Linked DNA regions of Homo sapiens: region 1 is reported to be linked to region 2. Evidence: microRNA targets listed by miRTarBase, many of them from high-throughput screens and not tested one by one. Region 2 holds a microRNA gene; the other region holds the end of a gene's coding sequence.
Evidence for each region. Region 2 holds the annotated microRNA hsa-miR-4770 (UGAGAUGACACUGUAGCU, at 1,803-1,820, opposite strand). A microRNA usually pairs through its seed, bases 2 to 8, with sites in the 3' UTR of a target mRNA and lowers its output. Matches are read on the target gene's strand: a 7mer-m8 pairs with bases 2 to 8, a 7mer-A1 pairs with bases 2 to 7 and ends in A, and an 8mer does both.

Region 1: miRTarBase lists ENO4 as a target of hsa-miR-4770. Seed matches in the 3' UTR shown: 8mer at 1,042-1,049.

The regions. Positions count from the first base shown.
Region 1 is chr10:116,881,133-116,884,132 of GRCh38, forward strand. It overlaps ENO4 (enolase 4), which reads left to right. Exons shown (of 14, transcript NM_001242699.2): 14 at 383-1,469. The coding sequence ends at 537. SHTN1 (shootin 1) reads right to left here. Exons shown (of 17, transcript NM_001127211.3): 17 at 345-3,000. Among named protein-coding and RNA genes, the nearest start is that of ENO4, 33 kb to the left of the region's middle.
Region 2 is chrX:6,382,105-6,386,412 of GRCh38, forward strand. MIR4770 (microRNA 4770) reads right to left here and starts at 1,859; the gene lies at 1,802-1,859.

The DNA.
Region 1 (3,000 bases), not on the chromosome of region 2:
ACTGGAATGGTCCTCGCCTGCCATCATTTCCCTGGGAGCAGTCAGCTGGCAGTGGCTTGTATCATGCCTAATACTGGCCTTTCCCCCAGTTTATCACCTTCCTCTTAACCCTTTCCGCTAAGCCTCTGCCCAAAGTCCATGATGCGTCATCAGATGTTCCAGAATGTTGAATGAGAGTGCAAGTAAAATCGAACAGAACATCTGTATGGCACAATTAACATATAACCAAAGATACGCCCAGTTGTAAATGGTTCTGGAGTCCTTTCCGATGGTGATGTGACACCTTTGGACTAGTACTGAAGATGATCTCCTTCAACTTATGTAGTATATAAAAACTGGCACCATTGGATTAGACAGTAAACTTTATTGTTACTTTAAATAGGTTTCAAAGAAGAACACACTTTTTTTTACTTTAATGAGGAAGCTGAAAAGGCTGCGGAGGCACTTGAGGCTGCTGCGGCTAGGGAGCCGCTGGTGCCCACCTTCCCCACACAAGGTGTAGAGGAATCAGCCGAAACAGGAGCATCCTCTGGATAGGGCTGTACACACCCCAGGTTCCAGCCACACCATCAGTATTAGTAGACCGGGAGGTCTGAAGTACGGCGCCGTGTCTCCACATGGAGTTTCCTCTTCAACTTCACCAACTCTTGTGGTTTTTATTCTTCTAATTCCACTGTTTGGTAAATTACATATATGATGTTTTTGCCTGAAATTCTGTGAACTTCGTTTTGCAGCCACCACACTTCCATGTGGATTTTGTTTGTCTATTAGCTCTCCTGTCCATTTTTCAGGGACACGCTCCAGTAAAAGAGGCCAATATTTTTGTTGCCAACTCCACACTCAGTCAAACACCCCATCCTTTACCAATCAGAATATCTCTGAGAACAAAAACCTAATGACCCTAGAAGCTCTCTGTGCTGGGAACAGATGTCCATCTTCTGTGTTTATTCTACATGTCTGTGCTGAAAAGCACTGACACATTTTTGTAACCAACCTCACGTAGAAGTGTGAGAGCATCACCATTTTTTGTAAGAGCCAATTTCATCTCACTTTCCTACCCTTGATTCCTTTTTTCCTAATTCCCTCTCCTTTTTAAATTTTAGTTTTTCTTGTATTATTTTTATCTTTGCGAGTCTTCTTAGATCCTTTTTGGAGTAAGAATGAGTATAAATGAATAAGCACATCAGTAAATGAATTAATATTCTCAAGGTTATTAAATGCCCAGTTATTCATACCACAGCATTTAAAAAGCAATCCGCAAGTGATAAAAAAAAAAAAAAAAAATGATGTGACATATCCATTGCCTGAATTGCTCTTTTGTAAGCCAGTGTTGGGATTATAGCAGAGGAGTAGCAGAAATAAATATATTCAGACACAAACATATAGATATAATAATATCCAACCACTTTATATGATTTAGGGTCTCGTTAAAATGGTTACCATTTGCTTCTCCTAAAAATTATATAAATTGCTATGTACTGACCTGTAGGGGAGTTGGCTAAGTTTAGACTTCTGACAAATTCTATAATTTTTATTAAGCACACTGAGGACCTCTCCTTTTAAAGAGTACTAACAAGGGACCTTAATTTCCTCATAACAGAGCCAACTCTTTATTCTCAAAGCTATGATTTGAAACTGGCTCAGGCGCAGACTCTCTCAGAGCATGCAGGAGACTTGGTTGGTATCACTCTAAGTTGGAAGAACTGTGTCACAGTTTGTGGCTGCTACTGCCTCTCCTGATGCTTAGCAACAAGCAACGGGTAGGAGAAACTGGAAGGAAAATTCATTTGAAAGGCAGAACAAACATGACTGGGTGTTCACATACCCTTTGAAAAATACACACACACACACACACACACACACACACATCATGAGACTATGCCCTGGAACAGTGATATAAATTATAATTAAATTACTAAAACCAGAGCAAAAATGTACAATGAATAACAAAATAACTAAATTAAATTAACCAAAGAGGTGATTTATTACAATAACCAGGTCAGCAGTGTGACTTCAACACAGAGCAGTTTACTCACCTATCCTCGAGACTGCACTCACCAATGGATAATTAGCATTTTAATTTAAATTTCTTAGGGTGCTAGGCACTCTTTCTACTTATACTTTCTCTCTCTTGTGTTATATAACATTTAATATGAAATATATTTATATAACTGTATATATAATATTATCTGTGAAAGAAATGAAAGAAACAGTCACATACCAAATTAAAATGACTGTGGGATAGGGACATGTTAGTGCTTGGAAGAGAAACTTCAAACCACTCCAATCCTTATGCAGGGACTGCTTGATGAGTCTTTGAAGGTCAGTGATAATGACAGATGGTTATCCATTCTCGACAACTTACTGGTATATAAGCTAATGTTGTTCCACAACGAGTGTAACTGAACAGGTAGAGTATGCATTTAGAAAAATAATCCAGACTTGAAGGCTGTGATACAGACTATCATTTACTGAACACACAACCAAAAACTGGTCTGGAAAGACAATTAAAAATAATTGTTACCTGTACTACTCCATTTCCAGCAGTTTACCATTAACAAAGAAGGTAAGGAAGGAGCAATTATTGGTGAGTAGTTAGAGCCAAAGCATCCATCCTCCGTACTCAGGGCAAACTATGCTGGGTGCTAATAGCCCTGTTGATGCCTGCCAGTCAGAACTTCCATGGGACTGTTCAGCTGCTGAAACTGCTGTGGGTGAGGACTTTGTTTGAGACCAGCTCACATACAAAAGGGTGCAAGTGCTTTAATTAAAATCTTATTCTTCCAGAAAAAAAAAGAGACATTTTCTTTTTCTTTAATAGCAATGGCACAAAGTACCTCTATCTCTGTTCCTCACTCGGGCTATAAAATGCATCAACATTCGTTTTTCTTAAAGAAAAAAAATCCTCTATAGCGCACAAGACTTAATTTATCTTTCCCAAACAGAAGGAAGCATAAATAACCTTTTAGAGAAATCAAAAACATAAAGATGCAGTCTTTT
Region 2 (4,308 bases):
GAACTCCTGGGCTCCAGTGATCCTCCCACCTCAGCCTCCCAAAGTGCTGGGATTACAGGCGTGAGCCACCGCACCCAGCCGACACATTTAAAGAAATGTTTTGGCAACTTATCAAATACCCACAGATTGGATCTAATCATTTAAAAAACACAAACTTGGTTGTAGACTTTCTGTCCTTCTGAGGCCCCATGACTATGTAGTCCCAAACTATTCTCGCCGATCACAAAGGAACATTCTGTTTAGGGCTACTTTTACCTTTGCTTAGACCATCCCTTTATTCAATTAATGTTTGAAACATCATACAGTGGGGGAAACAGCCATGCTATGGAGTGCGCAATGTTTGTTAAAAATTAAACAACCACTCACCCCTCCTTGCCCCAGTGACCTTTTCTTATCTAATCTTTTTCTTGGCACCGGTAAAGAGAACAGCCTTTCTTCACATAATCGCTCCATGGCTTCTCAGCAGAACATAACCAACCGCCTTGCTGAGGTGGCCTAGGGTGACCGGGTCTTCCTATCTTTTGTGCAGAGCTCTTGTCATGCGCAGGAGTTTGGGGAGATGCCCCCCACCCCCCCGCAAAAGGTTTCCTATGGCTTTAAAATAAGAGGTAGTTCAGGAACATTAACTGTTCACTTTACATTTAAGATATGATCTCCTGGAGATGTTGATGTGCCAGCTGGTCTTGTTGAGAGGCAGTTACTGATCTAGCAGGTGTTTATAGATTTTACACCTGTCTTGTTCTTTTTTTTAAAAAGAAACAACCTGCAACTAACTAACTTTATTTCGTATGTTAATGAGACAGATGTGAAAGAACACAAAATCAAAATGCTTCCCAGGATTCACAGCTCTAGTGTTCCTTGGCTTTATGGTTTGGAAGGAAAGCTGATTTATATAGGCAGAGGCTCTCTATATAGGTCCTTACCTCCCCTGTCCTGTTGTTTTGGAATGTGAGCAGAACACACTCAGGTCTACTGTATGAATAGGACACCCTGCGCCCTGAAATTCCATCAGCTTCACAGATCTCTCGTGGATTCTCTCAGAGTGATGACTCCCTCTCCCTTTCTCCAGTGTCTGAACACTACGTGGTAAGGGACTTTCCACGCACAATATTACTCTCAGCAGACAGAAGATGCTTTCCTGGAGAAGAAAGCGGCAGTATCTTCCAGAGGCAATTGGAGTTTTCAAATGTTGGTGGAGTTATGGGGTTGAAGGCTCCAGCTTTACTGGGTAGAGTCTCACGCCTCACAGTGCGCTTGCCCTGGGGCCCACTGGCTGTGTGTGGGTGCTTGTCCTCAAAACTGTAGCAGCCCAGTGCCCCTGGAGAGCCACTTTACCCAGCATCACTATTAGGTGCTCTGCCAGCTCTGTGGCATGGAGAGGAATTGTCTGGTAAGAACGGAATGTTTTCCATTCTCTCCATCAAGAACTCGAAAGGCTGATTGACAGGTGCAAACGCAAATCTGGTCATCTAGGCTGAATTACAAGATGTCTGGTGGAAGTTAAGAGACTTCAGGAGGTATTAAGAGGGATGGAATACCTGGAATTCCTTGGGGGCCAGGAGAGTTGAGCCATCCTCAGAGATGTGTGCATACTGCAAACCTCCTTTAAGCCAGGGCACTGGTATTGTGGGAAGCCCAGTTAGGGATTAGAGGGATTCCAGAATTAAGATCAACAAAGCAGTCTGACACCCTTTGGGGTGCCAGAGATTATCACTTAGATTGAGGACAGGGGAAAGGGGGTACACTCAACTCAATTGCTTCCTATAAAATCTTACAGACATCAATGATCCCAGAGGATGGGGAGCTACAGTGTCATCTCAGATCATTTTCCAAGGGAAGGATAGATGACCCCATAACTCATTATCTCTAAGAGAGAATGAGATTCCACATGCAAGATAGGAATCAAAACCCTTTTCACCACCTTCATTGACTCAGTTATGCAAATGGCCCTAGCTCATAGCCTCTAAGCCCAGAGCAGACAGTGCATCCTGGTTGCTGATTGCATACCTCCTGATGGGTTGTAACTGTGTGCTTTACGGAGGGCTAGTGTAAACATTCTCATTGCAAAGCGTCTTGCATGGATGAGCAGACATAGAGTGGCATTTGCCGGAGCTGAGCACCCCTGACTTCAGAGTTCACGTTTGGCAAAGTGATTTGTTGCACTACTTGGCAATTGAAGCATCCCGAATAGCTTTGTTTTATGGGGTGGGGGGCGGGGGCGAGGGGAAGAGAGTGGAGCTTTCTGTCTCCCTACTAATCAGGAGGGTCCTTGTTTGGGCTTTAGGCCCCTTCCCTTGTTTTCTGGGCAGAGGAATTGCCCCTAGGAATCCTCTGCAGGCCCTGCCAGTTTCAGAGCTCCCTCATTTTCATCTCTCCACTTCAATGAGCTCATTCACTAAGGCTTTCCCACAGCCCAGGATCTGACTTGGGTGGGCCTGCTTGGGTTTTGTGTGCCTCTGTGCCAGGAAGAGAACAGGCACAGGGCTCTGCTTGGCTATTGCCGGCATTCCTGGGCTAGTGCGTCACGGGGTCTCATGGTGACAGCATTCCACTGGAAACACGGAGTCCCGGAACCCAATTTTGAAAGGAATCCTCTCTAAAAATCTTTCAGGAGGGAGAAAACAGAGATTTCAGAGAGTTAACAGTGCTCCTCAAAACAGCGTTTGTCAAGGAAATTAGTAGCGACTTGTATGACACCCTCTTTCTCCTGTGATTTCACTTTCCTAAATGTTGATTGCTCCGGGGTGTGGGGCTTTTTTCTTCTATACCCAAAGCCACCTAGTAGAAGGGTTAAGTGCATAGACTTTTTCCAGGCGATCTCTGTGTTCATAAAGAGAAGTGGGGAAAGGGCTCTAGTGTTTCAAATGTAAAGTAACCATTGTTAGGAAAATGACTTATTCTTTCTTTCATTCATTTATACAAATGTAAGTTCTGGCTATGCTTAGCTACTCAAGGGAAATCAGAGGCAACTGGGTCCTCTAGGGATGTTTAGCAATATCTGGACACGTTTTTTATTTGTCCTCGCTGGGAGGTTGTTCCTGGCATCTAGCAGGCAGAGGCCCAGCGATACTACAGGGCACATGCCAGCTTCCCATCATAAGAAATATCTCCTTCCAAATGTCAATAGTGGTGTTACCAGAAAGGGGTCTCTATCCAGACCCCAAGAGAGGGTTCTTGGATCTCGCACAAAAAAGAATTTGAGGTGAGTCCATAGAGTAAAGTGAAAGCAAGTTGATTAAGAAAGTTAAAAAAAAAAAAAAAAAGAATGGTTACTCCACTGAGCTGCTCCACCGAGGATACTTATTATTACTCCTTCATTATATGCCAAACAAGGGGTGGACCATTCATGAGATTTCCAGGAAAGGGGTGGGCTGTTCCTGGAGCTGAGGGTTCCTCCCTTTCTCAGACCATGTAGTGTAACTTCTGGATGTTGCCATGGCATTTGTAAACTGTCATGGCGCTGGCGGGAGTGTCTTTTAGCATGCTAATACATTATAATTAGCATATAATGAGCAGTGAGGATGACCAGAGGTCACTTTTGTTGCCATCTTGGTTTTGGTGAGTTTTGGCCGGCTTGTTTACTGCAACCAGTTTTGTCAGCAAGGTCTTTATGACTTGTATCTTCTGCCGTCCTCCTATCTCATCCTGTGACTAAGAATGCCTAACCTTCTGGGAATGCAGCCCAGCAGATCTCAGCCTTACTTTCCCCAGCCCCTATTCAAGATAGTGGAGTTGCTCTGGTTCAAACGCCTCTGACAGTGGGATGGTTGAGAAACTTGGGGGTAGACCAAGGGCAAGGCAGCAATCTCAGCCTGTGGAAAACATTTTAGTAGATGCCATTGTAATGTCTGAAGTCATTCAATTATAATGTCAAACTCACTGCAAAACATGCATTATCTAAATATCTCTTATAGTTAGCTTTCTTTCTCTCTCTCTATTTTGCTCTCTCTAATTCTACATTTTAAAATCATATATGTACTGACCAATACGATGTTTGGCTGATCATTGGAAAGGCAATTGGAGAAACTTAGCAGCCCTGTTGAAATCCTCGACATATGCCATCTCCATGCAAATTCAGTACAAGGCACAATAGTAAAGTGTGGCTATGATATCATCAACTTTGAGGGGCCTCATTTCCCCCCCTAAATCCCTAGTCTCAAAGCCTGACTCCACTTTCTTCTGCCAGCCAAGAAGCTTGTCAAAGCCTGAGGGCATCATTGCTCTTTCCCCATTTCTAGCAGATGGCCGTGTTGTGAGACATTTAATCCACTGACTGAATCAGTTACAGTAATACCAGTGGCTTCTGAA